Regions from separate parts of the Homo sapiens genome. Here regions 2, 3, 4 and 5 are each linked to region 1. Evidence: fine-mapped expression QTL. A gene starts in region 1. Each other region holds a variant in brackets. All regions are shown on one strand. Distances are from middle to middle. Region 1 holds the start of UMAD1 (UBAP1-MVB12-associated (UMA) domain containing 1). Region 2 overlaps UMAD1 (UBAP1-MVB12-associated (UMA) domain containing 1). Region 3 has its middle 27 kb from the start of GLCCI1-DT. Region 4 overlaps UMAD1 (UBAP1-MVB12-associated (UMA) domain containing 1). Region 5 overlaps UMAD1 (UBAP1-MVB12-associated (UMA) domain containing 1).

Evidence for each region. PIP is the estimated chance that this variant, and not a neighbour inherited with it, causes the effect.
Region 2: its variant is the best candidate, but not a certain one, in a credible set for the expression of UMAD1 in lung (GTEx, PIP 0.69).
Region 3: its variant is the best candidate, but not a certain one, in a credible set for the expression of UMAD1 in transverse colon (GTEx, PIP 0.78).
Region 4: its variant is the best candidate, but not a certain one, in a credible set for the expression of UMAD1 in stomach (GTEx, PIP 0.58).
Region 5: its variant is the best candidate, but not a certain one, in a credible set for the expression of UMAD1 in lung (GTEx, PIP 0.76).

Annotation. Positions count from the first base shown.
Region 1 is chr7:7,638,094-7,642,447 of GRCh38, reverse strand. UMAD1 (UBAP1-MVB12-associated (UMA) domain containing 1) reads right to left here and starts at 1,696. Exons shown (of 4, transcript NM_001302348.2): 1 at 1,627-1,696. It overlaps RPA3 (replication protein A3), which reads left to right. Exons shown (of 8, transcript NM_002947.5): 5 at 1,273-2,128; 6 at 3,304-3,378. The coding sequence starts at 2,030. RefSeq lists enhancers at 1,236-1,405, 1,486-1,535, 1,576-1,775, 2,046-2,095, 2,466-2,515 and a silencer at 1,876-2,005.
Region 2 is chr7:7,878,950-7,883,303 of GRCh38, reverse strand. It overlaps UMAD1 (UBAP1-MVB12-associated (UMA) domain containing 1), which reads right to left. Exons shown (of 4, transcript NM_001302348.2): 4 at 4,081-4,354. The region is part of intron 3 of LOC124901586 (a long non-coding RNA gene); the gene reads left to right. Among named protein-coding and RNA genes, the nearest start is that of GLCCI1-DT, 88 kb to the left of the region's middle. The variant C/T (reference allele first, on the strand shown) is at 1,884.
Region 3 is chr7:7,939,851-7,944,204 of GRCh38, reverse strand. No RefSeq gene overlaps it. Among named protein-coding and RNA genes, the nearest start is that of GLCCI1-DT, 27 kb to the left of the region's middle. The variant C/A (reference allele first, on the strand shown) is at 1,956.
Region 4 is chr7:7,774,059-7,778,412 of GRCh38, reverse strand. The region is part of intron 2 of UMAD1 (UBAP1-MVB12-associated (UMA) domain containing 1); the gene reads right to left. Among named protein-coding and RNA genes, the nearest start is that of RPA3, 58 kb to the right of the region's middle. The variant A/G (reference allele first, on the strand shown) is at 2,219.
Region 5 is chr7:7,748,819-7,753,172 of GRCh38, reverse strand. The region is part of intron 2 of UMAD1 (UBAP1-MVB12-associated (UMA) domain containing 1); the gene reads right to left. Among named protein-coding and RNA genes, the nearest start is that of RPA3, 32 kb to the right of the region's middle. The variant C/T (reference allele first, on the strand shown) is at 2,258.

The DNA of each region.
Region 1 (4,354 bases):
AAGGCTCACACCTGTAATTCCAGTACTTTGGGAGGGAGACGGGGGAGGGAGGGATCGCCTGAGCCCAGGAGTTTGAGATAAGCCTGGTCAACATGGCGAGGCCCCATCTGAACAAAAAAAAACAAACAACAAAAAAAAAATCTTTATTAGCTGGGTGTGGTGGTATGTGCTTATAGTCCCAGCTACTTGGCAGGCTGAGGTGAGAGGATCGCTTAAGCCTACGAGTTAAAGGCTGCAGTGAGCTATGTGCATGCTACTGCACTCCAGTCTGGGTGACAGAGAGAGATCTTGCCTCAAAAAAAAATGCTATTAAAGACATTGATGTGTGTACTCTCCCCTATATAATGCACATCAACTTGCTTTGCAAAACAATGCTAAAGTACAAAAGACTTAAAGCTGTAATATAAAATAGACTTTACTGACTTGCACCAATACAACCACAACTTTTTTATACACCACTGACACACATTCTACATCTGTTTAATGAAATCCTTTAAAGTACCGTTAGTGAGTAAAACTAAGACAAACCTATTAAGTGCTAAGGAAACACTAAGGGAGACTATCATTTAATTATCGTACATGAGATTCCAATCTTAAATTGCCACGTGAAGTCTCAAATCGGATCTTTTTTGCTTAAGGGAATTTGAACGATGACAATTCTGTAGCTTTGGGCCAATTCACAGACTCAGTTTCCACAACGTTATAATACCCAATTAAAACTTCTGTCCAATTTCCACCGTACCGTTTGAAGGTATTTTTATGTGCACTCATTCTAGAATACTCCTGGCAAGGCCGCCGGCTTCGGGTCACAAGATGAGCCAGGGACAGATTGGAGACTACCCCCAAATCTCCCAGGAATCGGTTATCTTCCAGACCTCCAGATCGCCCTCCAGAGTCTCGCAGTGTGGAGGGCAACGACAGAAAGACTGCTGAGGGGGTTTAAACTGTTGAGTCAAACATATGGCCAAAAGTCAGAGTCAACTGGGACCTTGCAAATCATTCCGCCTAACCCTTCGTTTTGCAGATGGGGAAAACACGCCTCAGAAGGGAGAACCCTAGCTCGGGGAACCCTAGCTCGGGGTCTAACAACGATTTAAGCTTGTCTCCCCTAGTACTGGCCAGTGGTTCTTCCCCGTTACCCATCCTTAAGTGCTTCTATTGGCTGCCAACACGGAGGGGTTAGCGGGGTGAAAGAACCGGCGCCTCCGCAGTGTGGCCAGGTTGGGCTAAAAAACGTCTTAGAAGTAATCGGATCAATCTCTCTTCTTACAGGTGGAGAAAGTGGAGAAAGTAGAGTGACGCAGCTAAGGGAGTAAATCGACCCTCAGCCAACAAGTGGCAAAAGCCTGAAGAAAGTGATCAAGATCACTGATGACCCCGCTGCCCATCTCCAAGGGGGCGGGTATCACAACCCCGACGCCACACCACGTATCATTCCGCAAAACTCCCGCGCCTCCCACGCAGAACTGGCAAGAGGGAAGGCGAGACAGCAGTGAACAGCTGGTACGCAGCACCCACAGCACCGCGGCAGCAGCTAGTGCCGACTCCCGCCTAGCTCTTTTGACTCTGTTCGCGGGAAGAATGGGGAAACAGTAAGGTTGCGGCGCCTCCCGCGAGACGAGGTACCTGAGGCTGGCCCCGCAGTCCCCCGCCGCACCAGCACCGGAGCTTCACACCCCACTTCCGGGGTCAAGTCACCGCCGGGAATCCTGTGATCGCAGAAAGGTAGTCTCAGGTTCCGCCCCTATCCAAGTCCCGCCTCCACTGCCTCTCGCCCTGTATCTGTCAACTTCCGGGACGCCGCGCGTCACTAAGCAGCCAATCTCCACTTCCGGACTCATCCAGCCCCTTCTCCACCCCTTTCAGAGACAGCGCGATTGCGATTTAGGTTTCCGCGCATTTAATTGGCGAAGCTGGAGCGCTAGTCTTCGCTGATTGGTGCCGAGAAATCTGCCCCATAGACACCCGCGGGGCGCACAGTTTCAGTCGTCCGTGGGTTTCCCGCCAGCCGCAGTCTTGGACCATAATCATGGTGGACATGATGGACTTGCCCAGGTCGCGCATCAACGCCGGCATGCTAGCTCAATTCATCGACAAGCCTGTCTGCTTCGTAGGGAGGCTGGAAAAGGTGTGCGGGTTCGCAATCATGGGCTCCCAAGTCCGTAGCTGGAGGGAGGGACCCCGCCTGGATAACGGGGGATGAAAAAGGACGGAAAGCCTCCGATCACTGCGCCCCCGACTCCTTTATTTTGCACAAGGAACTTTTTGGAAATTCTTTAGCCGTTGTAGCCCCATTTTGGCGCTCTTTTATGGCACGGAAACAAAGTGTTTTCAAATGCTGAGTTCTAAATTCCAGTGCCCGTCGCCTCCGTTCTAGCCGTGCTTACGTAAGGGAAATTATAAACACCACTCCCACATCTACCTTCAGATTTCTTAGTTTACTCAGACGTGACGGACGCAGACAAAACTAATCTGCTGGTTTCCTTCTCTTCTGAAATTACTTATTTTTGCAAACCTCGTTTCCTCGTTGTGATCGCTTCTCTGTAAAACATGCCTTGGTTGTCCGCTTTGGGTCCCGTAGTAACGAGTTATTTAACCCCAGTATTAAAGTGAAGTTCCCTCATTCTACAGGCGAGAAACAGGCCCAAAGTCTTGGAATCAGTGACCTGAAAAGCTGAGGAAAAGAAAACTATTATATAAAGACTTATTTAGTAGCTCATTTCATCCACACATCCTCTTCCTTAAATGAGTGTTGCTCTGACTTCCCAAGTAGGGAAACTGAGTAGGAGTGGTAGGTGGTTGACTAAAATGCTCAGAAACTCGGCAAATGGCAAAGCTGGCATTCAAACGCAATCTGACAGCGCTCTTTACAGCTGCTTCCCAGGAGTAGGACCCAGATATTCTAGCAACCAGTTCTCCTTTTACTTCATCATGCCTGTTTTTTAAAACATACCCTCCGTGGGATATGTACTGTCTAAATCATGAGTGCCAGCAGATTTCACTTTTAGGGTGGGCATCCTTTAATTTGTTATCAGAATAGGGTTGCCATATTTAGCAAATACAGAACCTACTTAACACTACAAAAAAAATCCTTGTTTATCTGAAATTCAGAAATTAACTGTGTGTTCCATGAACAGATTTGATAACATAAGATTATAATTTGATCCAATAAGTTGAATAAACTGAATGAATAAACTGTTCAAGAAACAGTTGATTTGTGCTCAACTAAGGATCAATGTACTCATCTTTAGTCAAACTTTGTTGTTGTTTTAGTGAGATTTTAATTATATGTTTCGTTTTTAGATTCATCCCACCGGAAAAATGTTTATTCTTTCAGATGGAGAAGGAAAAAATGGAACCATCGAGTTGATGGAACCCGTATGTTTAAGTGTTAATAAGTCTCTTATATATTATAGTTAATTCTTCATCTTGATTTGGTTTGTTGCCGATGTTTCTAATTTTTGCAATGGATTTAAAAAGGATGAGCTGGTAAAACGTCCCTGGCTGTAAAATTTAATTCTTGTACTATTCTCTCATTATATTTCCTTTTACATTTTTAACCAATGATTTTTTGGGCGTCATGATTTTTGAACATATCCCATAAATGTTGGATAACAATTCTCATTCCTTATGAAAGACCATAAAATCACATAAGAAAAATTTACGTTGCTTTTTTCTTCCTCAAGAGGTTTTTTGTTTCGTTTTTGTTTTTTTGTTTTGAGACAGGGTCTCACTCTGTTACCCCGGGTGGAATGCAGTGGCACCATCATGGCGCACTGCAGCCTTAGCCTCCCAAGATCAAGTTGCTCCCATGTCAGCCTCCCCAGTAGCTGGGACTACAGGCATGCTTAACCATGCCTGGCTAATTTTTGTTTTGTTTTGTTTTGTTTTGTTTTGTTTTGTTTTTTGTAAAGATGGCATCTCCCTATGTTCCTCAGGCTGGTCTTGAACTCTCGGTCTCAAGCAATCCTCCTGCCTCGACCAGCCCCTCAAGAGTTTTCGATTTTATTTTATTTTCTATTTTTGTTCATATATTTCCAGTTTTTACTTATTTATGTTTGCATTTTATGTTTAACATACTTAAAACTTTTTTTGGTATTTTGTGAAGACAAATCCATATGCTGTTTGGTTAATGTATACAGAACACATTGTGAAATACAGATTATAGAAGATTCCTCTCATAGGATATTACTGCTTATAGAAATGCTGGACGTTTTCAATAGTGATTTTGTCTTTAACTTGAATTGTAGCTTTGGACTTGAAGCTACTGCTAAAGGTAGCAGGAATTTTAACATGCTGACAGTTAAGTACTCAAACATTTGTTAACAAGTTACATTTTAACTTTTACACTGGT
Region 2 (4,354 bases), 240 kb before region 1:
GTTGTTTTTTGTTTTGATTGTGTCTTTCCCAAAGGAAACTGAATGAGATCCACTCATCAAATTTACCTTTTAGCATGCAGTGAGCTTTCGCTAATGAGAAGTAAAATTATGAGATTCTTGGGCACTTTTCCCCTCCAAAAGAAGATTGGTTTCCTTTTATTGCTGCTTCTTCTTTTCTTCTTCTTCTTCCTCTTCTTCTTCTTCCTCTTCCTCTTTTTCTCCTTCTCCTCCTTCTCCTTCTTCCTTCTTCCTTTCTTCTTCTTCCTCTTCTTTCTTCTTCTTTCTTCTTCCTCCTTCTCCTCCTCCTTCTTCTTCTTCCTCTTATTGCTTCCTTCTCCTTCTCCCTTTCTTTTTTTTTGGCAGGGTCTCACTCTGTCAACCAGGCTGGAGTGGCACAATCACGGCTCACTGTATCACTGCAGCCTCGACCTCCCCAGGCTCAGATGATCTCCAACCTCAGCCTCCAGAGTAGCTGGGATTGCAACTACTAAGCCCAGCTAACTTTTTTGTAGAGACGGGGTTTCACCATGCTGCCCAGGCTGACTTCTACTGCTTCTTAAAACTACCTCTTAATGTTGAAAATGAAATCCATCTTTCTGTAGAAGATTAAGGAGGTACAATTTTATTTTTGCTATTACTAAAAAAAAAAGTCCCACCTTTTATAGAGAAGAGCTCTTTGTATCATGAGTTGTCCTGATTATTTAAAGAGGAAATAATGACATTACAATCTCATTTCCATACCATTTGCTGAAGAATGACATTATTTATAAGATGCAACCATCTTTGGAATAAGGTAGGAAAAGGCCAGGTATCTATGAGGCCTCCACTTACAATGCAACACTGTTAGCCCTACAAAGGAAGGTCTGTGGTATATATAGTTATTTGTGGCAAGCTAAGGAGATACATGCCTGACATTAACAGGAAGATAAATTTTGAGGAAACCATAGAATATACTATCGTATCCAACATAAAATGGTATTCATCTGCACCATGTAAAATGTTCCAAATTTTATCGACTTTCATAAAAATGTAAATATGTCTCTTGGATAGCACTGATTAAGACTTGGAAAAAGATTGAAGATTCCTGAGTTCATACTAATATAAATAATTGATAAATAAATTGGGGAAAAGAGACAAATCTCTCATGCAGAAGAATTCCAAATAATTTATGTGATAGTTGCCTTTCAAGGAGGTGGAGTTTAATTACCCACTCGTTGAGTGTGGGCTGTGCTTTGTGATTTAATTCCAAAGAGTATAGAAAGGTTGGGGGGAATAACTTTTGCAGTGGAGAAACCTGAGAAGCACTACTTTGGCCAGGTATTCAAAGTCAGCATCATCAGTAATAAGTCATGTCTATAGCTTATACTACTCTCAATACGATATAATCTCACTGAAGGGGGTATCACCTTTTTAATATTTCTCCAAAAACCGATATCCCTAGTCTAACCATGTGAAAACATCAGATAAACCCCACTTGAGAAATATTCTACAAAATACTTAACCAGTACTCCTCAAAACTGTCAAGGTCATCAAAAATAAAAAGTCTGAGAAACTGTTGAAGCCAAGAGGTGCCTAAGGAGATATGACGACTAAATAAATGTAATGTGCTATCCCAGGTAGGCTGCTGAAGGAGAAAAAGGACATTAGAGGAAAACTATGAAATCTGAACGGGGTGTGCAGTGTAGTTAATTGCAATGTACCGGTGTTGATTCCTCGGTTGTGACAAATGTACTGCAGTTACGTGACATGTCAACAACAGGGGAAACTAAGTGAGGGGTATGTGGGAACTCTCTGTAGTACCTTCATAATTTTTCTGTGAATCTAAAACTATTCCAAAATAAAAAGTTTATTTAAATTTTTAAAAGACTGACATATTGTCACAT[C/T]GACTGAAACAGAGTTCCCTGCGTCAATCAATACCTCTTTCTCTCTTTCCCACACACGCCTATCTGCCAAACCATATGGCAAAAAGAGTCCTTTTCCTGAAACATAAGAATACTTAATCCTTCAAGCCACTGTAGTATGAATGGAATTGGACTTATTCTGAAAGTTTTAGATTTCCCAATAATACCTAGGTCATGCCCTCAGTAATATGGGACAAATGCTCAAAAGAGAATGTCAATAAACCTGTATTTCCCAAAAACTTTAAAAGATAAACCATCCTTCAACTGCATTTCCAATAAACTTATATTTTGTGTGAGTTATTGACATAATTAATAAGATAACGCACTAATCTCTGAAAGAAACATATTCTTTGCTAGATTACTGAGGGCAGTGTTCACTTATTGATCAATTGTTACCATGGGAGGCACAGAGGTAGTCTGATGTACTACGGTTTCAGAACATGAGTGAGATTCTTTCCTTGCTTCTCCTTATCTGTCATTTAGAATTATGAGAAATGAAATCTCTGGGAATTTTAGAAGAATTTTTTCATACTGTTTTGAATTTACCATTTTTCTTTAAGAGAAGAAAAAAATAAGTGTTGACGTCAATGAATATTTACCTTAAAAAACTATTACGGATTTGATTTGCAATTGTTAATAAAAATTGTGGCTTTGTTAACATTTTAATGGTACAATTTTAAAAGTTCAGTTGATCAAAATTTAATTAGCCAGGATAATAAATTGGTCAGAATCGCCTCTCTCATTCTGTTTTTAGGAAAGAATGCAAATGTCTTTAAAGAAAGCTTGGGAAAAAAATACATGCAAGTTCTTGAATATATTTTAGGGCTAAAAATAAGATTCAAGGCTGGGCACAGTGGCTCATGCCTGTAATCCCAGCAATTTGGGAGGCCTAGGCGGGTGGATCATCTCAGGAGTTCGAGACCAGCCTAGTCAACATGGTGAAGCCCTGTATCTACTAAAAAAAAAAAAAAAAAAAATTAGGCATGGTGGCAGGCACCTGTAATCGCAGCTACTTGGGAGGCTGAGGCAAGAGAATCGCTTGAACCCAGGAGGAGGAGGTTGCAGTGAGCCGAGATCATGCCATTGCATTCCAGCCTGGGTGACAAGAGCAAAACTCTGTCACAAATAAATAAATAAGATTCAGTAAAATCACCTGCACATTCCATATCTATAGTACTTTGCAACAATAACATATATTAGGAAAAAGACTGTAATAACGAGAAAAAGAAAAAAATGTTCACTATGGAATTCTTAGTTAAGGCAGAACAGTCAACTAACATATTTTAGGAATATTTCTCATAGTAAGGTATTTAATATGGAAAAAAATAACTGGGAAGGAGGGGGATCTACAGTTAACGTAGGTAGCTGTTTTATTTATGTTACTCTTCAAGAAGTTCAATTAATATGTATTTTGCATTTCATTATAGTATTGTGTGTGTATGGTCAATAACGAGAATTATAACAATCCCTTTCCCAGAATACCGATGATGTGCAAGGCTTTAGGCTGCCAGGCATTTGACATACACCACCTATAACTTAACACAACGCTACAAGTTATGAACAATTAGTGTTTCACAATTGAGAGAACTGAGGGCACCAGAAGTTAGGGGACTGATTGAAAGCCCCACAGCTTATAAAGGAGGGAGCCATTACAAACTCTGTCTGGCTGCCTCAATTGCCTGAACTCTCTCCCACCATATCATACAGCTTTGTTATCATATATTATAATTACTAACACTATTAAAGTAGGCATTTATTTATCACTAAGTGATTTAAGTCATTTAGTCTTTCTAGGCTTCAATTTTATCTTGGGTAAAATGAAGTTGACGTATTGATTTCTAATGTTTCATAGAAATATTAATTTATATACAGAATAAAAAATTAAATGGTAATTTTCACAATATTTTTGTTTAAAGAAGAAGATCATTAACATTGGCCCTTACTAAATGTTGTGATGATGGTATCAATCTAGAAATGCTCATGTCATCTCTCTCAAATCCCTCCAGTCCTGTTAAGCCAGGACTAGGGATCTTACCATTTTTAATGTTATTCCTTAAAACTTACATGTAAGAGGAAATCGTATATTTTTCCCAGCACTATACAAACTATATACTTAAACTTTTTGGCTCCTAAAGAATTAACAACTTGCATTCAGATATAAATAATGCAATCAAACCCATTTTTCTGGATCTGAAAATAATCAAAAATTTTATTTTAATTCACATTTATTTAAATATAACATTTTTTATAGACACATGAAGGTACTTATGAACATTTATAACATGGTAGGCACAAATATAGATGAAATGTTTAGGTATTTTCGACAAAATTTCACACAAAATTAGACAAACTGACTATGTGCTTGCATTTAATTTCAAGGGTACATTAACACAGATATTTGAAAAGGATGTTCTTTTACAAAACTACTACAAAATGTTCACGTTTGCATCAGT
Region 3 (4,354 bases), 300 kb before region 1:
TCCTACATGTTCAGACTAGTGTTAAAAGTGACTTCAGATATTTCCTATGCTCATGTTTTTTAAAAAAAAGTCCAACCATTCTCCTCAATGAACATGACATTAAATCAAGCTAAGTCCAGTCACATGGTCTCAACTTTACTCACTAAAGCTAGCAGGCAAGGGCCTAGTGAGTTGAATTAGAGGTTTAATTAGAAGAACAAGCAATAAATGCTAAATGTTCTGTTGCAACTGTGTAACTTTCTGTGGGATTTTATGCCTTGTATCTTTTTTCCTGAATTCCAGACCAACGGGGCTGCACTAGAACCCCAGAAGCAGAGAATTCCATAACTCAGACTCTTTGATTCAGATATTTTTCTTTTCATCACCTTGAGAGAGCAAATAAATCCCCCAAACTACTTTTCCCACCTCTCAAGCTTCTAGAGGATATTCTTGACTGGAATTTGTCCATGTTCTTAAATAACAGGTTACTTCACGTTCTTTGTGTTTAAATAAATGTAATTAGGCCTGTTTTTAAAAACTATGGAAAATATTAAAAAGAAAATTAAAATCATCTATAAACTTACCACTTAGTGGCAGCCACATGAACATTTTTGTGTTTCCTTATTTCTACACATATGTATACTTTCCAAAATTTGTCATAAATGTTTTAAAGGTGCTTCATATATTGCCAAATTGCCCTCCAGAAAAGTTAAATCAATTTATAATCCATTTTCAGTGAATGGTGTAATTTTAAAAGCCAGCTTTAAATTTGAGTTGAAAAATGATGCCTCACAGCTGTCTTTATTTTCTTCTATCTCCCTCAATCCTAAAGTTGACCATTTCTTTCCTATGGTTATGGCCAATTACAGTGGACATCGTGTTTCACTCCTCAACAACAATGTAGTTTCTGGAATTGACCCCAGCTCTCGGAATGAGTCCTGATTACTATTGAACCAAGCATAGTAATCCAATCTCTTTGGCTAGTGAAAGGTTCAAAATCAAAACATAGCATTCCTGTGACAAGAGATTTAATCCAGGTTGGTCCTAATCTGAGTCAATAAGGCTGAGAAGAAGCACTTGTATTTTGTTGCTAGAAAAGAGATTCTACGGCCTGGTGTGGTGGTTCACACCTGTAATCCCAGCACTTTGGGAGGCCGAGGTGGGTGGATCATTTGAGGTCAGGAGTTTGAGACCAGCCTGCCTCTACCAAAAACACAAAAATTAGCCGAGTGTGGTCGCGGGTGCCTGTAGTTCCAGCTACTCGGGAGGCTGAGGCAGGAGAATCGCTTGAACCCAGGAGGTAGAGGTTGCAGTGAGCCAAGAAAAAAAAAAAAAAAAAGAGAGAGAGAGAGGTTCCACTTCTCCTCTGATGAATGTGAACAGGAAAGCGTATTGTCCCCACGTGCTGCTGGGTGTTATCTTGTGAACCTCAGAGAAGTCAACCTGACTTTCTGGTTACATGCAAAAATATATTATTTCCTTAGTGTTTAGGTTAGTTTGATTTGGGCTTCCAATTTTTACAGTGAGAAGCTGTCAGAACCCTTTCTCTTTATGGGATTTTTGGAGTTTTTTATTTGGTTTTTGCCAATTCCTATTAGGCATTATCAGTGTTTTTATTGTTGATGTGGTAAGAACTCTATTGAGGGTGTAATCTTGTTGTCTATTTATTATGACTATGTCTCCAAGTTTATCACTTGTTCATTATTTGCTATGTAGTCTTATTTAATTCAGAGAAGAATATAGTCTTAATGTAATTAAATATACCAGTATTTTTCTTTGTGATATATTCCATTGCTTTTACTGTTATTCATTCACTAATAGGTGTGTGTGTGTGTGTGTGTCTGTGCGTAGCAACCACAGGGTTCCAGGCTATAATACACAAGCGAGCCAAAAAAGATACAGTCCCTGTCTTATATCCTAGTTTATATCCTAGTGGGGGGACCGAGGGTAAGGCAAACATTAAACTGAAAAGCCAC[C/A]CAAATAAGTGTGAGCTGCCAGTGGACAGATCCTACAAAGAGAAGGTACACAATATATGAGAGCTCTAATAGGAAAATTAGGACTAACTAAGGAAATCAGGGGAAGCTTCCCTGGGGAAACGGTGATTGAACTATGAATGATGAAAAGGAGTCAGGTAGCTGGGTAAGGGCATTACAGGTAGTAGGAACTATAGGTGCAAAGGTCCTGCTCAGGAACAAGCACAGGAAATAAGAGGGATAAAAGAAAGTAAACGCCACCGGATCCTGAGAGGGTCTTGGTATAAGATGAAGCTGGAAAGGCTGAGAGGTTGGGGGATGGAGCTGGGAGAAGCTGACTATGCAGGGTTAATAAGTCCGTGTTAAAGAGTGCTGCCTCCTTCCTAAAATCCATGGTGTCATCTTTGACAACCATATTACCTTTACCCCCAACATCCAATTCTATCAAACCCCCAAATCCTATTACTTTTGCTTTCTACATATCTCTTTAATCTATCCACTTTAATCTGTCCATTTCTCTTCATATTTACCAACACTGCTTTAGTCCATTCTATCATCATTTCTGCTTGCACTAATGGAACAGCCTCCTCATTGATCTATTTGCTCCTACTCTTGCCCCAGTTTAATCCATTCCATGGTAATGAGAATTCAATCCTGACATTGATAGCATTTGATGACATAAGATAACATTAGAAGATCTAATGTGCAACAGGAGGGCTCCATGAAATAATATTGTATTGTACTTGAGATTTTCCCTAAAAGAGTAGATTTCAGGTGCCACACACAAAAAACAAGTAATTATGTGAGATAATGGATGTGAATTTGCTTGACTATAGTAACCTTTTTACTTTCTATATGTATATCGAAACATCATGTTGTACACCTTAAATATATACAGTAAAATTTTTAAAATAAGAAATGCAAGAAAATAAACTTGTTAACAAAAAAGAAGGAAAACACTGACAAAGAACCAGTTTGGATTTTTGTTAGTTTGTTTTTTGAGAGGAGAGGGTATGCAGCGGGCAGTTTATGAGCTCAATTGTGGACCCGTTGAGTTTGAAATGCTCTTGGGATGTCCTGGAGAAGAAGCCAGGTAGGAGGTGAATGCTAGGTGGATATCTTCTGCTTTCCCACATAGAGCCACTCTCCACCCTTCTCTATTCTGCTGTATCCAGAGAGACTGACCTGTATGAAATGAATCAACATCCCATGTAACCTTAGCACCTGGTTCCCGTGTTCTCTGTCTTCTAGTTAGGTTCAGCCAATGGGAGGTAGAAGCAGAAGACTGAAGGCAGAGCGTGGAGGCTGATTATTTATTCCATATTATCTCCATACTGCATTCTCTCTTCCCCTTCCTTCTCCTGCCCCTCTTCCCCACCTTTTCCTACTTGTACCACTCCTTTGCCACCTCCTCCTCTCTCTCACTCTCATTCAGTAATCATTTCCACCTGCTTCCTTGTTTAGGCCTAAAGCAGTAATGTTCCCTGAGATACTGTACCATTATCCTTTGTTGCCTTCCCTAAACCCTCTGTAAATGATCTCTTAACTAAAGTCTTCTTAATTACCCATTTTGAATGTGCCATACATTTCCTGCATGGATCCTGACTAATACTGAAAAGTTGGAAATGGTTAGGCTGGAGTTTGAGAGTCACCTGACAGGAGGTGGTAACTACAGCCATAGGCATGATGAGAATCCTTGGAAGACAGTGGAGAGAAGGGATGGGCCCAGAGAAACTCAAACATATAATGGTCCCCAGAGGAGGATAATCCTGCAAAGTCACTGGAGAAGTAGTGGCCAAACTGGTAAGAGAAAAATTAGGGAAGTGTTATGAAAGCCAAAGGAAGCAAAGGGAATAAAAAAAGCGTTTGCAGTCAAGACTATCAACTGGTGCTGCAGTCATTGGATTTAGTGACTTAAATGACATCCGGAATCTGTTACATATTTTCTGTGTTCCCTTGTAGTTTATAATGCTTTTAATTTTTTATATTTCTTTAACTTATCTAGAATTTATTTCAGAATACAGTTTAAGGTGAAAATTTATCCTTCTTTAGCCATTATTCCAACATCATTTACTAAATAATTCATCACTTTCTCTGTTACAATTACTTCATCATATACTGTTTTTAAAAGTACAAAGAGATGCCTAAGCACTTTCTATTCGATGTTTAAGAGCTTCCTATTTAACTATCATTGTGGAAAGGGTTGTCACTTTCATACATTTCAATATCGTTTTGAGCAAGTCTAACTTCTTATTTCTTAATTTTCAGAATTATATTATTAATAGTCTATTTATTCTTCCAGATGAGCCTTAGAAACATTTTATCAATTAAAAAAATCCACTGGGATTTTGTTTGGGATTGTTTTAATCCTACAAATTAAATTGGGAAGAGTTTAACTTCAT
Region 4 (4,354 bases), 140 kb before region 1:
AAAACTTTAAATCTACAGAAAATTTGAAAGAACAGTACCATGAACACTCTAGACTGTTCACCTTTACCTATATTCATCAGTTGTTAAACTTTGCCATATTTACGCTCTCTCTCTGTCTCTCTCTCTCTCTCTCTCTCACACACACACACACACACACACACACACACACACACACACACACACACAAAACCAGTTTTGGAGAAGCCAAGATGACGGCTGGTTGGCTCACTGTGTAGAAGAGCATACTCCACCTATTTGTCATATGTACAAAAAGCCTTTTTCAGAGAACCTAATATTGCATAAGACATACAATGTCATAATATTAAAGTTGCAATAATTGTGATGATCAATAGAGAGTAACACTGATAGCGAATAAGAAGATATTTTTCTGCAATGCCCCACTTGGGAAGGATAAACAGTCTCAGAGTTTTATGTTCAGGCCTTTTAATAAGGGGAGAGCAAAGGCTTTCACTAGCAGGCAAGGAAGCCTAACACAGCTAGATCAGGGTTAGAGTTAGATATGTTACTGAATGAAGTTACTGGTAAAGGATTTCCAGAAATAGCCCTGTGTACATGGGTATTTCCCCCTTAACTATATTGAAAAGGAGCTTTTAAATAAAGGTTCCCCACTCCCTTTTACAAATTTTAAACATCCAGACTATCACGAGTATCTGGAAGTAGATCAGAAAATCAAAAGGATGCTAAATATTTTGTCTCAAAGAATTACATATGTGAACATTTACTCTACAGATATTAGACTGAACAACATAAATTTTTTTCTAGGTTAAAAAGCCAAATACTGGCAATTACATATATATATATATATATATATATATATTTGCTCATGTATGAAATGACATAAATATAAGAATATTAACTGTAGTTTTTCTTTTTTTTTTTTTTTTTTGAGATGGAGTCTCACACTGTCTCCCAGGCTGGAGTGCGGTGGTTCAATCTCAGCTCACTGCAACCACCACCTCCCGGGTTCAGGCGATTCTCCTGCCTCATCCTCCCGAGTAGCTGGGATTACAGGCACCCACCACCACGCCCAGCTAATTTTTTGTATTTTTAGTAGAGATAGGGTTTCACCATGTTGGCCAGGCTGGTCTTGAACTCCTGGCCTTGTGATTTGCCCGCCTCAGCCACCCAAAGTACTGGGATTACAGGGATGAGCCGCCACGCCCAGCCTGTAGTATTGTTTTTACAAGCGGAAGTCTGGAAATGATCTAAATGGCTAGACAGGAGATCAGTAAATAAAGTATGGTACAGTCATATAATACAATACTAACTGTCAAAAGAAAAAATTAAAAAGCTGCATACCACCTTGAAAATGTCTTAAGATACATTGTTATGTGAAAAAAGTATGGCGCAAAACGAGTTGGTATAGTAAGCTACCTTTTGCATACAAGCATGGAGGAGGGTAAAAAGATACACCTGCATTTGCTCGTGTAGACATAAACTCTGAAAGAATACATAAAAGATGAACAGTAGTAGTTTACTTTTGGAGGAGGAAGAACTGTGTGGATCGATGACAGATGTTGGAGGAAGGCTTTTCAGTGTATTACTTTTCATATATTTTTTAGCCATTTATATGTATTATCTAGTCAAAACGAATTTAAGATTTTGAACATTTAGATAGGGTGATCAGAAATTGGAAAATGATTCTTCCTGTGCCTTCTGTCTACAACAATACAATGTTAAATTGTAATCATCTCTATGAAATTTAGTTTCAAGTGTTTGCAGAGTAACCGTTATTATAGATTTAATTATAAAGATTGATTATTTTTTGGCATGCTGTCTTTGTTTCACATTAGAGAATACAATATCTAAAAGGCCTTTTCAAAAGAAACTTTTTGTGATACAGATTCTTTAGTCATATAATTGCAAAAACAACACTGAAAATTCCTGTGTGCCCGTCACCTAGTTTTCCCCATGGTTTACTATCCCTAAACCTGGCTACCACTAATCTGCTCTCTATCTGTATAACCCTGTCACTTGAGAATACTATATAAATGGATTTACAAAGTATGCAATATTTTGAGATTAGCGTTTAACAATTACTTTTTGCACTCTCATTCCCCATATTGATTGCATTTTCATATTTTTATTTCTTTTCTAGAGATGGGGTCTTGCCATGTTGCCCAAGCTGCTTTCGAATTCCTGGGCTCAACTGATCATTCTGCCTTAGCCTCTCAAGTAGCTGGAACTACAAGTGCAT[A/G]CCACTGTGCCTGGTTCCATATGTCTTGTTTTGTTTTGTTTTTTAAGTCAGGTTTATTGAGGGATAATTTACATACTATAAAACTCACCCTTTTCAGTGTGCAGTTCTATGATTTTTTAAAATAGTTTTGTTTTGGTATAGTGTATAACAAATTACACATTTTCAAGTATCAAATTTGATGAGTTTATATATATTTGTGAAGGCATCATCACAACCTACATAACGATCCATCACCCCTGAAAAGTTTCCTTGTATTACTTTGTAATCCATTTTTCCAACATTATACACTCATTCCCAGGCAACCACTTTGCTATCCATTACTATAGGTTCACATTTTCTAGATTTTTATTTAAATGGAATCACATAGTATATTTTTTCATTTCTCCTGAGTAAATACCTAGAAGTAGAATAGCTGCATCATATAGTAGGTATATGTTTACCTCCTTTACAAACAGCCAAACTTCCAAAATGACTGTAACATTTTATATTCCCACCAGCAATATGTGCAATTCCAATTTCTCCATATCCTCATCAACATTTGGTATGGTCAGTCTTTGTAATTTTAGCCTTTCTAGTGGGTGTAGTAGTGTATTAGTCCATTCTCATGCTGCTATGAAGAAATACCTGAGACTGGGTAATTTATAGAGGTTTAATTGACTCACAGTTCTGCATGGCTGGGGAGGGCTTGAAACTTACAATCATGGCGGAAGGCACCTCTTCAAAGGGTGGCAGGAAAGAGAATGAGAGACAGCAGGGAAAATGCCAGACACTTATAAAACCATCAAATCTCATGAGAACTCACTCACTATCATGAGAACAGCATGGTGGAAACTGCCCCCATGATTCAATTACCTCCCACTGGGTCCCTCCCAGGACACATATGATTATGGGGATTACAGTTCAAGATGAGATTTGGGTAGAGACACAGCCAAACCATATCAAGTAGTATCTCATTGCAGTATTAATTTACATTTCCCTAATAACTACCGATGCTGAGCATCTTTTCATGTGCTTATTTGAACAGACAGAAGCCATACTGAAATGGACCAAAAGAAAGCATGAATGGTGAAGAAAGAATGAGCTCAAATCAGTCTTTGGAAAATTTTGGCAGTGAAAATGGAAGAAACACATATGACAGTGAACTTAAAGAGGGTTTCTTGGCTATGAGGAAGGACCGGTAGAGGAGATTAAAAGAACAAGAGAAAGACATGAAATAATTGATGAAGAAAGGTTAGAGAAGAAATGGGATGAGAATGTGATAAGGATACAGGTTACCTTTGCGAGGAAGAGACAGAAAGTGAGATGGAAATTAAGTGAAGAAATACATTTTGAGATGGTGGCCAGGGAAACTCAAGGGCTTTGCTCAACCTTCCTGGCAAAATTGGGGAAGAACTTATCTACTGAGACTAAAATAGAAGGAACTGGGCCTGGGGCTTGAGAAGGATGACAAGAGTTGAAATTGGTGTTATGAGAAAGCAGTGGGTTGGGAATCAAACAGAGATAAGTAGTGGGATTATCAAACAGCTTTAAGAGCACTCACAAAGAATCTATGTTAGTAAAATTTAATATTTCTTGTATTCTCTTTCCTTGGTTGTCAAGAGTTCCCAAAAAAAGGACATAAATGGGTCAAACAGTTCCATAACTATACTACCTCACAACACTTTCACATTCTCAAGCTCTCTCTCTTTCTTTTTTGAGACTTACAACTTGTTTGGTATGTAGAACAGGTTCCACTCTATACATGAAGAAACAGAAAGTGAGGGAATGGCTTTCCCACAACGCTAGGCTAGCTGGAACTTTAATCCAGATTTTTTGATTCTGATTCTAGTAATTAGCATGTCCCATAATTCTATTGCTGCATCCTGCTGCTATCTACCTTCAATGCTCTTCATTATTGTTCTGACCTTAAAAACTGCCTCAGTTTCTTAATTGTTACTCTACCTTTCTAATCCACCCCACACTCTGCTCCATTCTTTCCTAAACAACATTGCTCATGTTCTACAGAAGCAGAAGTCTGTCGAGAAGTCAGAGTAGCATCTAAGCCTGAGAAGCTGCTCAGAGAAAGGGGAAGAAGATTTTGGTGCACCTGAGGACTCAGTTTGCAAACAGAAAAAGCACCAGCTATCAAGCTGCAGC
Region 5 (4,354 bases), 110 kb before region 1:
AAATATATACACCTACTATGTAACCACAAAAATTAAAATAAATAAAAAGATGATGTGACAACAATTTTAAAAAATACATAAAGAAGGTCAAGTATTTTCTTTTTGGGCTTACAAATGAGAGTGGAGGAGGGGTCTTTTACTTCTCACTTTATGCCTTCTGGAATATGTATGCTACATAATAAATATATTTTTTCATGTTTAAAACCATTAACTACAGACCAGGGTGGATCCAGGTTGTAGGGTAACTGAATCTTATGCAACTTTTCTAGACCTTTTAAAGAAAAAGAATACAAAATTATGAATACAAAATTAGAAGAGAAAGTGGAAGTATATTTAGAACAGAAAAATTACAAATTTTAAATAGCTGAAAATAAACATCATGAAATTCAGAAAAATACCATCTTATTTTTATTTATCCAACAAACCTCTATAATGCTTTTTTCTAAAATTTTTGATTATACATATTTTGACAAATGACAATTTTATAACACAATTTTCCACATACGAAATTAAAAAATAATTTGGCATCTCTTCTAATTATGCTATAAAAAGAATTTTTAGAAATATGTGTTAAGGAAAGATTCTTTTCAGTTCACAACTCATGTCGGGTTTTTAGGATCACTGTAAAATTTGGGAAAACTTTCATAAAATTTTTTTCTTTTATGAGTTGCAAAATTTCAGGGTATTTCAAAGTTTCATATGTGGCAACTAATATATATACTCTTTGACCTGAAGATACTCATTAATTATAAAGCTCATTATAGTTACATATTATGACATTTTATGTTGTCTTTCTCGATACGTATTTTGTGGTTAAATCAAGAGAAACTTAAGTGTTTCCCCAGTGTATTCATATGATTCACTCTTTTTTATTAACTAAGTTTTCAAGTAGTCTATCAAGCCTATTTATTATCTCTATTAGAAACTTTTCTTTTCAATGCATTACTGCTTTTGTTATAATCTATTTTTTTACAACATGCTTTTTGATATCAAATAATTTCTACTTATTTCATCATTCATCTTTGTTGCTTTAGTTTTATGTTCCATTATCTAAATTATCTCAGTTCTTTAAAAAATAAGTGCAAAAATGAGAAAATAATGAACCCTATGTACCTAAATTAGGAGTCTATAATTTCTCCCTTGTCTTATTGAAATGTTTCAAAATATCTTTCAAACTATAGTTTAAAGTTGTATATTCTCAACTCAATTTCCCTTTAGCCAGATCTGATAAATGCCTGTGATCATTCCAAAGCAATCCTGTGTGAGGAAATGTGATAGAAGGACCGTCAGAGTAGAAAAGAGATAGCAGTCTTAACTAATTATGCTTAAATACCTTTAAATTCCTCAAATTTTGCAAAACCATATGATCACGTGAACACATTGCTAGAGGTCCTCGCAGAGCCTTGGAGGAGGTCTGTGCAAGTCAGAGGTCCTGAAACCTAAATCCCAGTAAATTTACTCCTGGTAAATTTGCCTCTGATTACAGGTAAACAGGGCAGTTACAAGATCCAACTGAAGCCAAAGGTCCTTGGCTCAAGCCCAGGAGGAGCTGGGTGTTTGTCCCCACCTGTCCCTCCACCCTCATATACAACATTCAATATCAGGGTGACATATGCTTATAGGAAGTGTTAGTGCAAAGTCTAATTTAGTTTCCCTGACTTTTCCACATTGCAAAGCTAGAATTGCTTACATTCCTCATTTCTGCCAAAATTGAGATTCACACAGGTTGAAATCTTAGTTAACCAAAAATCTCTAACTTATCAGAAATTTCTTCAGTTTCAGTTTCACCAATCCATTGTTTGCATTGGCACATCTAGTCTCTCTCTCTCTACAATTCTTGAAACTTTAACTTTAGCCCTATTTTAACATACCAACTCTAAAAGTTTTATTTGCCCCACACATTCATTAAAATTATCTCTCATTTATAAAATATGGGCTAAAATCATGATACATATAATTGGGGAGAGATATAGTCAACGACAGAGCTCAATACTGTACTTCATAATCTGAAGTAATGTAACTAGTGGTATAACACAGAAAACAATAATGACAGCATTATATTCACATTGCTCAGCTATATACACAAAGAGAAGCCTGCATAATATCAAATGGATAAATAAAGTAGAAGTCTCAACTGGCTTTTAACACAGTTAAAGCTGGTTTTCAGTTTCTCTTTACAATTCATCTTGTATTTTTAATATAGGGAATTTCAAAGTATTATGGGGGTCATTACTTCTTATTAAATACTTTATTGACA[C/T]TGTTTGCTATCTCTATTTACCCTTTCCTACTTTTAAATCCAGCAATAGGATTAGAACAATTATTGCTTTCACCAAATTCTGAAACATCTGAAAAATACATACAGTTAAGAGCACTCTGCAGCCAAACTGACTGGGTTTATATCTCAGCTCCGCCATGTTCTAGCTGTGTGATTTTGAGCAAGTTACTTAACCTCTCTGTGCCTCATTTATCTTATTTGTAAAATGGGGATAAAATAATGCCTACCTCATAAGTATACTGGTGAGGATTACATGAATTCATGTTTGTAACTACTTAGAACAGTGCCTTACACACAGTAGTGTTGTATATGTGTTTGTTAAATATAAGAAAAATATGAAACCGTGTATAATATAAAATGGGCCGTCATTAAAGAAGCTATAATCAAGAAATCAGGTAGTTATTCTAATTGGAGTGGAGTTTTATTATTTTCCATCAAGTATTGTACATTTCAAACTGCCAAAGACAATTAGTTCAAATTTAAAAGCACAAACACATTTCTGGGCCAAATAAACAATTTGTACATTATCAATACCATATCTATCTCTGATAATGAGGAAGTCAAAGACTGACAAGCAGCTTAGTAGAGCCTGACAGATGTGAAATGGACTCTAGCTGGGCAGTTTTAAGGAATTTATTTAATTTTTTGGAAACTCCGTTTCCAGATTTGGGCAAATGGGTATAAATACTACCTAGACTTCTTAAGATATTAGTTAAAATTACATTATATAAGACATATATAAAGAGCTAATATGTAGTAGAAGATACTTAATGCATAGAAGTTATTATAATTGCAATTGACCATAATTCTATTTTGCTAATATTCCTCCTTACATTATAGACCACTGCTTCTCACCATTCTAGCAGTATAATTAAGAATATTTATCTTCCCTATTCACTTTTGTTAAGATGTCAAACATAATCAATGTCTGACCTTGTCTTGGACTGAGACTGAATAACATTGGTGAAAGAGATCCTTCATGGATATTTATGAATGCAAATGTGACACATAACGTCCTTTCATTAGTAGTTACTTACATTATTAAAAGTTTTACAGAACTTAGATAAACTATCCTGGAAAATAATACTCTTATCTTAGACGTTTTCTGTGTAATAAATGTTTCAATTTATAGCACCTTTTATGAGAACATACAAAAATCTCAATATATGCTATTTTATAAATCTTTTCATCATATCTACATATTAGATCACAGCAAATATCAACGCCCAGTTTTATTTTAGAAAAATATGAGAGTAAAGATTCATGACTTGCCCTCCTAAGCATGCCAAGAGGGGAATTCACATAATTTCTCACTTTTCTGAAGGAAGCCTTTGCCACCAGTACTGAGAACACTATAAAATTAAGTACTGGAAGCTAAAATTGCTAAATATTCTATAAGCCATGAAAAAAACGCTTACCCACTCCCATTCCTGGAAAAGGCATTAACTAATGTTCCTCAAATATTTTTCCTTGGATTAGGCAGAAACAGTTCAAACCCACAGAAGACACATAGCTTTCACGTGGAATACGGGCTATTAAAGTGTGCACTGCTGGAAAGTAATTAAACCATACTGTACTCTCACTGAGGTGAGATTATAAAAACCTAGAAAAGAGTCCTTCAAGGAAAATGTGTCAAAACCATTTAAATTAATTTAGCACATCAAATTTCACTCTATTTATTGTGGAATTGTTGCAGTTATTTTAACATTAAAAAGAAGTAACTGATAAATTGAATTTGTTATGGAATCCCCCACAAACCTGTCCTCAAATCTATTATAAAACACCAATACCAAGTATGGAAAGGCTCATGCTAGAAAGTTTAAAAACATTATCAAGGGAAATTTTTTTTAAGCAAATACAGAAATCAATGCAAAGCAATCACACTGATCTGGGCGAAGAAGAGCCCAGAGTAAAAGAAAATCATGTGTAATAGGATATCTCTAGCACAGCCAGAAAAGGAGGGATAAAAGAGGGAATTAGGAGTGTGAGAAGTTTGGCAGTTCTTAGATTTACTGATGACCCTGCCTGGCTGATAGAGCTAAATCCTAAAGTATCCTTCTGATAAATATTACATTATTT